Homo sapiens: one gene and its partner. The protein of the gene in region 1 interacts with the protein of each later gene in a pairwise test. Each region holds a gene or a part of one and is shown on either strand. Other genes may lie near its edges.

Region 1 (5,209 bases):
GGTAGATAGGTAGCTAGCTGTTGTGTCAGATGCCCACCCTAGCCTGGTGGGTTGAGGGGGGTGCCCCTTATCTCCCAGGCGTCAGGGGTTGGGAGAAACACATGCTTCTTAGATGGGAGTTTGGTTGGAGTGGGGATGTCTAGTGTCAGTGTCTTTAGGATAGGAACAGTAAAGGCAGCTCTGCATGCTTTAGGATTTTGGGATGATGGTTTATAGCAGAGTTTGTAAACTATGGCCCATGGGCCAAATCTGGTCTACTTGCCTATTTTTGTATAGTAAATTTCTATTGGAACATGCGAATTCATTTACATACTGTCTGGCTGCTTTTAAATTACAGTGGCAGAGTTGCCACGATGTGCCCAAGACCATAAAACCTGCAAAGCCTAAAATACTGTCTGTTCCTTTTCAGAAAAGTTCGTTGACTCCTGGTTTAGAGTATTATGTAAACTCAACACAATTTTTATGTACAAATTACGAAATCTTATTTCTAAAACTAGGATGTACTAGGTTTGAATCATCTAGCAGAAGTCTATCATCTCTCAATTTTTTTCCTTAGGTGTTCAAAGGGGAAAATTACTGATACAGAGACGATGGTCGGAATCAGATTTGAAAATGAAAGTGTAAGTAAAAATCCTAGTTACATTTGATACCTGTTTACTTATGTAACTTATGTTTTGGTGCCCATGAAAAGCAAGAAAAAGTATATATATATAACTTTGATTGTTAATTCTGTTGTTTTTCTTTAAAAAAGCAGCAAGCCAGCCAGTCACAGTGGCTCATGCCTGTAATCCCAGAACTTTAGGAGGCCAAGGCAGAAGGATCACTTGAGCCCAGGAGTTTGAGACCAGCCTGGGCAACATAGTGAGACTGTCTCCACAAAAAAATTTAAAAGTTAGCCAGGCATGGTGGCATGTCTGTAGTCCCAGCTACTTGGGAAGCTAAGGTGGGAGGATTGCTTGAGCCCAGGAGGTCAAGGCTGCAGTGAGCTGTGATCACACCATAGCACTCCAGCCTAGGTGACAGAATGAGACTCTGTCTCAAAAAAAAAAAAAAAAAAAAAGGCAGGAAGCATTGAAAATACACAACTTTTTTCTTCCTTCTGAGTTGTTGGAGTTTTGCCTCTGTACAGTAGCCACCTTTGTTTATGAGAGACCAATCTGCCTCCATACCAACATGTTACCTACATTTTATGGCTTCTTAGGGAGAATTTCTTAAAAATCATACATCTCTGGAAAGAGATGATATGTTCTGGGTTGCTGGCAGAATTCTATTTGTTTACTACAATTGTGGTTATATAGGTGTTCATTCAAATTAAGTGGTACATTAATGTTTTGTGCATTTTCTGTAATATCAAATGACTTTTTTCAAGGATAAACTAGAACCAAGTTGAGTTACTATAAAGATAGTAGGGATTTATTCTGAGTGATGGGATTGTGGGTCATATTTTTTGCTGTTTAAAACTTTCATAATATCTTTTAAACATACTAATTTTAATTGTGATAGGAGAACTGAAAATACTTTTCTTGCTACTTCCAGGGAAGGTGGTGAGTGTTCTGTTTGATGGTTCATAACTGAGGGTCCTGTGAGGCCTAGGTCTGGAGCTTTTTTTGCTCCCCCTTGCAGGGACAGACAGATAGGGTAAATCTACTCACTTGGGGGATTTGCTAATTCTCTTTTCTTTCACATTAGTGGCAGTTTTATATTTCATGTGTAATCTGTGTTTATATTTGCAAGTATCAAACATGTCAGTAGAATTTAGATAATTTTTTGATCAGAGGAGGGGATACCAACTGGAGCCTGACCTATCAGAAGAAGTGTCGGCCCGACTCCGCCTGGGCAGTGGAAGCAATGGCTTACTCAGGAGGAAAGTGTCAATAATTGAGACAAAGGAAAAGAATTGCTCAGGCAAAGAGAGGGACAGAAGAACGGACGATCTCCTTGAACTTACAGAGGTATTGTTCTTTGTATTGATCCTAAAAAGAGGCATGTCTTTAAATAACCTCAGTTATTCTAACTTGAATGTTTTGTTTTGAGGACTTTCTCCAGGCTAGGGGTGAATATATGAAAACATGTCAGGTCCATGGTCTGTTGATTCACTTTGACTACATTGATCTTTAGTGAGGCATGATCATTAGTGGCCTAAGGGATCAGATTGATATTCAGCAAATGGGGAGTCGACACAGTCATCTCATATCTTGGAATACAACAGATTCTTTGTAAATTCTAACCTTCAAATATGTTGAGTTATATAGTATGGGTTTGGCATTAAGAATAAGTTCATTGCATTTTTTTTTTGAAAGTTATTATAGTTTACTAAAATGCCCCCTTTGTTGATTATTGCATTTGAAAATAGTAAAAACTTACAGAACATAAAGAATGAAGGTAGTTAAAATTCTTATTTTAAAGATGTGCCCACATCTTGGCTTCCTCCACAATGTTGCCCTAGTAGGCAAATCTCTTGAATACTTACTGTTATATTGGGCATGTAGGTGGAGAGAGAGATCCATAAAATGGTGAAGCTGTGTGCAGTGGGAAGCAGCATATATTTAGAAGAAAATAATTTCTTTTTTTTGAGACAGAGTTTCGCTCTTGTTGCCCAGGCTGGAGTGCAATGGCGCGATCTTGGCTCACTGCAACCTCTGCATCCTGGGTTCAAGTGATTCTCCTGGCTCAGCCTCCCTAGTAGCTGGGATTACAGGCACCTGCCACCATGCCCAGCTAATTTTTGTATTTTTAGTAGAGACCGGGTTTCACCATGTTGGCTAGGCTGGTCTCGAACTCCTGACCTTAGATGATCTACCCACCTCGGCCTCCCAAAGTGCTGGGATTATAGGCGCAAGCCACTGCCCCCGGCCTAGAGGAAAATAATTTCTATTGGGTTTATAGATTTAGTTTTGTATCTTAAATAATGCATTTATCTGCATAATTCTTTAGTATGATGAAGCCATTTATTCCATAAGGAGTCAATTGCTAGACTGCTGGGTGGTTTCCAAGTTTCTGCCTGTTTGCTTATTCTCTTCATGTCAAAAAGGATGGTGTGACCCCTTAGATGTCCTAATCTTATTTTGATGTTTTATTTATTTATTTATTTTTGAGATAGAGTCTCGCTCTGTTGGCAGGCTGGAGTGCAGTGGCACAATCTCAGCTTACTGCAACCTCTGCCTCCCAGGTTCAAGTGATTCTTCTGCCTCAGCCTCCTGCGTAGCTGGGACTACAGGCGCGTGCCACCACGCCCAGCTAATTTTTGTATTTTTAGTAGAGATGGGGTTTCACCATGCTGGCCAGGCTGGTCTCGAACTCCTGACCTCATGATCCGCCCGTCTTGGCTTCCCAAAGTGCTGGGATTACAGGCGTGAGCCACCACACCCAGCCTTTTTTGATGTTTTAAAAGTTTAAAGGCGAGAATGGGCGTGGTGGCTCACGCCTGTAATCCCAGCACTTTGGGAAGCCAAGATGGGCGGATCATGAAGTCAGGAGTTCGAGACCAGCCTGGCCAGCATGGTGAAACCCCGTCTCTACCAAAAATACAAAAAAATAGCTGGCATGGTGGTGTGCACCTGTAATTCCAGCTAATCAGGAGACTGAGGCATGAAAATTGCTTGAACCTGGGAGGCAGAGGTTGCAGTGAACTGAGATCATGCAGCTGCATGCACTCCAGCCTGGGTGACAAAGTGAGAATCTGTCTCAAAAAAAAAAAAAAAAGAAGGGCCAGGCTGGTGGCTCACACCTGTAATCCCAGCACTTTGGGAGGCCGAGATGGGCAGATCACGAGGTCAGGAGATCGAGACCATCCTGGCTAACACAGTGAAACCCCGTCTCTACTAAAAATACAAAAAATTAGCCGGGCGTGGTGGCGGGCGCCTGTCATCCCAGCTACTCGGGAGGCTGAGGCAGGAGAATGGCGTGACCCCGGGAGGCGGAGCTTGCAGTAAGCCGAGATGGCGCCACTGCACTCCGGCCTGGGAGACTGAGCGAGACTCCGTCTCCAAAAAAAAAAAAAAACGTTTAAAGTGGAAATCAGGAGTTTACTATTATGAAGGGAGCAAAGTCCAGGAAATTAGATGCACCTGGGTTCAAATCTTCTTCTACCTTTTAATAATTATATGACTTTGAATATGTAAAATAAATTCTCTGGGTTTCAATTTTCTTCTCTATAAAATGATAATAATGTCTTCCTCACTAATATGGATCAATGATGTGCTTCAAGCATCTAACACCATGTTTGACTCATAGTGGTTAATACGTAGTAGTAGGAAAATTGAGACTATACTTTAGATGTAAATATTATTATTAAATTATTGTTTCCACAAGCTAATAAGTGAACCAGGATTTGTTGTAAGTATTACTTACAACAATTAAGTAAGGCTGCTTTGTAGTTATAAGTTAAAATATTTTCAGGGCTGGTGCAGTGGCTCATGCCTATAATCTCAGCACTTTGGGAGGCCAAGGCAGGTATTGCTTGAGCCCAGGAGTTTGCAACCAACTTGGGCAATATAATGAGGCCCCATCTCTATCACTAAAAATAAGAAAAAAATGTTTTCCTACTGTAGTTTAGTAGGTCTTTGATAGTATATTTTTCTCAAGAGTCAGGTGTTGCCGAGATGAAAAACTTTTTTCAGTCTCGGAGTTTTCAATAACTGATAATGAATGGTTCTATATTAAAATAGCAACTTCTGAACTTTCTAATTCAGGACATGGAAAAGGAAATCAGTAATGCCCTAGGCCATGGCCCACAGGATGAAATCCTAAGTAGTGCTTTCAAATTGCGAATTACTCGAGGAGATATTCAGACATTAAAGAACTATCACTGGCTCAATGATGAAGTAAGTTGTATTCCCTCCCCCTTTTGGCTATCATTAAGTTTATTTATTTATTATCTATAATCAAAGTGACTCCTACCCAGTTATAATGGGTTGGTAATGCAACTCTTAGTTATAATTAAAACAAAAACATTTTAAATCTTAAAAAGATGGTTAGTTCTGATTTTCTGCCTTTGATTAGCGATGTTTCCCTTTTCTGCGTCTGTATTTTATTGCATCCACCACTTCATTTACTGGTCTTCAATAAACCCTGGGTACAGCTGATAAACGGGAGGAAGCAGCAAGTGATACTGTATTTTAGGTGAATTCTTATAGTAGCTATTTTTTTGTTTTTGTTTTTTGGTTTTGTTTTTGAGACAGAGTTTTGCTCTTGTTGTCCAGGCTGGAGT
Region 2 (5,209 bases), on another chromosome or scaffold:
CACTTGGGGCAGATTGCTTGTCCTTGGTCATCTCTGTACTGGAGCAGGGTGCTCAATTTAGACTGGTATTCTTCGGTTTGATCAGAAGTGTACTTCTCAGCTGGGTGCCGTGGCTCACTGTAATCCCAGCACTTTGGGAGACCAAGGCAGGAGGATGGCTTGAGGCCAAGAGTCCAAGACCAGCCTGGGCAACATAGTGAGACTTCATCTCTCTCTCTCTTTTTTAAGGCATTAATATCTTTAGCATCTCAAGGTTTTTCATTTTTCCTGCAAGGGAACAGATTCTCAAGGGAATTTGTTCAGTGATGGTAGATCACTCCAGCATCAAAGATCATTCTCTTGTTAGTAGACATGCTAGGTTGGGTCCTTTGGGATAATCTAGCTCATCCATTTTGTTGCTGAGAGTCATTATTTGAGCCAGGTTGGTTAATACAGCTTTTGAGATTTAGTCTTTATTCATTGTCTTTGTTATCATTTATTTACTATGTCTCATTCATCTGGCATTAGTTGGGACTCTAGGGATATAGAGATTCACAGCCCATATGGTCAGTGCTGAGCTAGAAGGGTGTGTTTAGTGCTGAGAGAGCAGAGGGAAGACGCTCTGTCTGCTTGGAGGTGTTAGGGAAGTCTTCTTCCAAAGAGGCGTTAGTATCTTTAGCATCTCAAGGTTTTTCATTTTCCTTGCAACTGTTTGACATTTTCCCCCAAAACGTAGAGAATTCTTTAAATTATACAAAATCTTTATCTCAGATAACACTGGGTTTACTAATTATCAGTGACAAATGGCTATGTAAAAATATTTTGTGTATAGAATGCTGTTTGTGAGAATTTGTTTAATCTGTCTCATTAAAATGGTTTCCTTTATTCATTTGCTGGGGATTGGGGGGTGGATAAGGGGTCTCACCCAGGGAATATAGTTAAGGTTTGTTTTTTGTTTTTTTAATTTCACTTCCAATTTAACTCATGGCATGAAGATTAGCTTTTTAAAAAAAACTTTGTAACTTAAAATGTTAAGTCTTGAAAATGACAGTTGAATTGGGAGTTGCTGATGAGTGGTGGTATAGATAATATTTTTGTTCTGCCGGGCGCGGTGGCTCATGCCTGTAATCCCAGCACTTTGGGAGGCCGAGGCGGGTGGATCACGAGGTCAGGAGATCGAGACTATCCTGGCTAACACGGTGAAACCCCTTCTCTACTAAAAAACAAAAAATCAGCCGGGCGTGGTGGCAAGTGCCTGTAGTCCCAGCTACTCGGGAGGCTGAGACAGGAGAATGGCATAAACCCGGGAGGCGGAGCTTGCGGTGAGCAGAGATCACGCCACTGCACTCCAGCCTGGGCGACAGAGCGAGACTCCGTCTCAAAAAACAAAAATAAAAAAAATTTTGTTCTAACCAAAAAATAAAGCCATATACATACATAAAATATTTGTACTTCTCACAAGCTTTGGATTAAGAAGAAATGTTAAGATTCAGCAAAAAGTAAAATTCTGCAAAAGCTTCAAAGTAATCAACTATTTTGATTACTTAGTGCAAGCCAATAAGAAGTCTTTTCAATTTATATGTAGAATTTTCCTAAGGTTCATCATCACCTCCATGCCTGTGACTCAAATTGCTGTATCAAGTACTAACAGAAAAAGCCTTCACTTGCCATTTGATTTGATCACCACTGTTTTGCTGAGGCTGGAGTTTGAAGTGATAGTAGATGAATAAATACAAGAAGAAATGCAGATAAACAAATTCTTCTATGGAGTCATTCACAGACAAAATAGAACCTAAGATTTCTAGTCAGCCTGTTTATGCAAAATCAGATATTTTTATTATTTAAAGTATTTTCTGTGTGGCTAAAAGTCAGTGTGTTCATTCAGGGTGCAAATGGCAAAAGAAAAGTGATGCACTAAAAAATTACAAAGAAAGCATAAGCTTGACAGAAGTGATTTATAATGGTATATATGGCTATTTTATTATTTGGAGGCACTGAGTTACTGGACTGGCTTGCACACACACTGTTGTTCCTGTTCAGATATTGCAGTCTCTCAGTAGTACCATATGATAATTTTTCTTATGATAGGCATTTAGCTATAGTTTTATTAAAAGGATTTATGGCATGAAACTTGTGTAGAGTGCAGTTTGTTTTATATTCTACTTTCAAAAGCAATTACCAGAAAGTATTCTTAATTTAAGTAAAGAGAGCTATTTAAATACTTACCAGGCTACTTAAATTTCTTTAGTGATCTAATAACTGATTGGCTTATGATCCCTTATAATTAAAGATCTATTTAATTAAAAAGTATTTTTAAATTAGCTATATAATCTAGATAATCTCTGTATCTTTTTAACTAATTCCCTATTCCAAAAGGTGTGACAGAATGATAGTATAGTTAAAAGACAGTTTTTGGAATCATTTTCCCATCATGTACTAAACACTGTTCATCACATCTAAATAATTAGTTACTTACTTATGCTTAATATCTGTTTTCCCTAACAGACCTGAAGCTCTCTGAGGATAGGGGCTTATGTCTCCCTTATTCAGTACTTAGCATAGGGTAGGCACTAGTGTCTGTTAAATGAATAAACTAGTGGAGAAAAAGCAATTTCTTAGCTATAAGTTTTATAGGTTACTAGAACTCTTAAGTGTTTATATATTCTTGGCTATTATAGTCAGCAACCTAGTTGGTATAGTATTGATAATTTTTATTATATTTTTTGCAGATTGCTAGTCATAGTGGCTATGTGCAGATTGACTGGAAGAGAGTTGAAAAAGATGTAAATAAAGCAAAAAGACAGATTAAGAAACGAGCGAACAAAGCAGCACCTGAAATCAACAATTTAATTGAAGAAGTAAGATGATATATAATTTTGACTTTTTTTTTTTTTTTCCTTTTTTTGGTTAATGGGTATCCCTTAGCAGAAAATGTGACCGGGGGGGATTACTGTCTTTTTTAAAAATGGTGTTTTTGGTTATATATCTAGAGTGTTAAGTAAAATTTGAGATCACACCACTACTTAAATCAGTCATTATTTTTTTTTTTTTGGTGGTTATCATAGATTCCCCTGCATATCTCTAGCTCACTTTGATCTTGTTGTAAAAACTAAGAACATTCTTTTCAACATATTTCCTCTGCCTTTATAAATGAACATGTACAGGTGTAGTAAAACTTAAAAGTACACATTTTTTTTCTTGAGGATAGTTTGAAAATATGTTTTTTTAATATGATTAATATATTTTATTAATGTTTTCAGGTGTAATTTGACCCTTTACTTTTGTACTGTTTAAAATGGAATTGAATACTTCCTTGCCTTTGTTTTTGTTTTATCCTTTTACCTCCCTCAACTTTTTAGTTTGAAAAAATTCAAACCAGTTAAAAAGTTGAAAGACAAATATAGTGAATATCTCAATACCCTTCATCTATTCACCAAATTGTTCATGATTTGCCGTGTTTACTTTATCTGTGTGTGGGTGACACACACAGATAATTTTTTTTCCAAAGTATTTAAGATGTCATAACTTTTCATCCCTAAATACTTCAGTATGTATCTTCTAAGAGTACAGATATTCTCTTATACAACTATGAATACGCCCCCCCCCCTTTTTTATTTTTTTACTGTGTGGGAACTGCCACTTCAGAAACTTTTTTTTTCTTTTTTGAGACGGGTTCTCGCCCTGTAGCCCAGGCTGGAGTGCAGTGGCGTAATCTTGGCTCACTGCAACCTTCGCCTCTCGGGTTCAAGCGATTCTCCTGCCCCAGCCTCCTGAGTAGCTGGAATTACAGGCACGCGCCACCTCTCCCAGCTAATTTTTTGTATCTTTAGTAGAGACAGGGTTTCACCATGTTGGCCAGGCTGGTCTCGAACTCCTGACCTCATGATCCACCCGCCTCAGTCTCCCGAAGTGCTGGGATTAGGGGCGTGAGCCACCAGGCCCGGCCAACTGTTTTTTTTTGTTTTTTTTTTTTGTTTTTTTTGAGACAGGTCTCATTCTGTCTCGCTGTGTTGCTTAGGCTGGAATGCAGTGGCATCATCATGGCTCACTACAGCCTTGACTCCCCTGGCTCAAATGGTCCTCCCACCTCAGCCTCCCAAGTAGCTGGGACTACAGGTGTGCATGATGCCTCGGCCTCCCAAAGTGCCAGGATCACAGGCGTGAGCCCCCATGCCTGGCCAAATGCCATTATTAATAAAAAAAAAATGTAACATGAGATAATAGTATTTCCTTTCTTTGTTAATTTTTTTTAGACAGGGTCTTGCTCTGTCACCCAGGCTGGAGTGCAATGGTGTGATCACAGCTCACTGCAGCCTCGAGCACCTGGGCTCAAGTGATCCTCCCACCTCAGCCTCTCAAGTAGCTGGGACTACAGGTGCATGCCCAGCTAATTTTTATATTTTTGTAGAGATGAGGTTTTGCCATGTTGCCAGGCTGGTCTCAAACTCCTGGGCTCAAGCAGCCTGCCTGCCTCAGCCTCCCAATGTGCTGGGCATTACAGGTTTGAGCCACCACACCCAGCCAGTATTTTCTAATATGCAGTTCATATTAATATTTTTCTACAAAATATCTTGTGTGGCTTTTTTTTTCCCAATTAAGAATTATATGCCAGGTACAGTAGTTCACTCCTGTAATCCCAGCACTTTGGGAGGCTGAGGCAGGAGGATCTCTTGAGCCTAGGAGTTTGAGATCAGCCTGGGTAAGAGAGAGAGACCTTGTCTCTACAGAAAATACAAAAATTAGAACGGTGGCATGCACCTATAGTCTCAGCTACTTGGGAGGCTGAGGTGGGAGGATTGCTTGAGGCTGTGAGACGTGATTGTGCCACTGCACTCCAGCCTGGCTGACAGAATGAGACCCTGTTCCCACTCACCCCCCCAAAAAAAATTATATATTGTTTTCGGTTATCATGTCTATGAAGTCTCATTTAGTCTTAAACAGTCCTTTCATCTGTTAATTTTATTCCCCCATCTTTCATGGCACTGACATTTTTGACACCTCTAGGCAGAATATCCCACAGTCTGGCTTTGTCTGATGGCTTCCTCATGATTTTATTCTGGTTAAACATTTTACCAAAGTAATTTGTTTTGGTTTTGATCCTGTACATTTTTTTTTCTGTTGGCTAAATGGACTATTAATAAATACCATTGTGCCTGCTGTGACAATTTATTAAATAATCTGTGTTAATAACTTGATGATGGGCCATTCATCTCTACCTTACAGGTAGATT

Evidence for each region.
Region 2: the proteins of SENP2 (region 1) and FUNDC1 interact in binary tests that used the Homo sapiens proteins (3 or more experiments, as listed by UniProt).

Annotation. Positions count from the first base shown.
Region 1 is NC_000003.12:185,612,789-185,617,997, forward strand, and holds part of SENP2 (sentrin-specific protease 2), read left to right. Parts: intron 1-556; coding exon 557-620; intron 621-1,775; coding exon 1,776-1,952; intron 1,953-4,691; coding exon 4,692-4,823; intron 4,824-5,209. UniProt on the Homo sapiens protein: Protease that catalyzes two essential functions in the SUMO pathway.
Region 2 is NC_000023.11:44,524,865-44,530,073, reverse strand, and holds part of FUNDC1 (FUN14 domain-containing protein 1), read left to right. Parts: intron 1-2,708; coding exon 2,709-2,837; intron 2,838-5,209. UniProt on the Homo sapiens protein: Integral mitochondrial outer-membrane protein that mediates the formation of mitochondria-associated endoplasmic reticulum membranes (MAMs).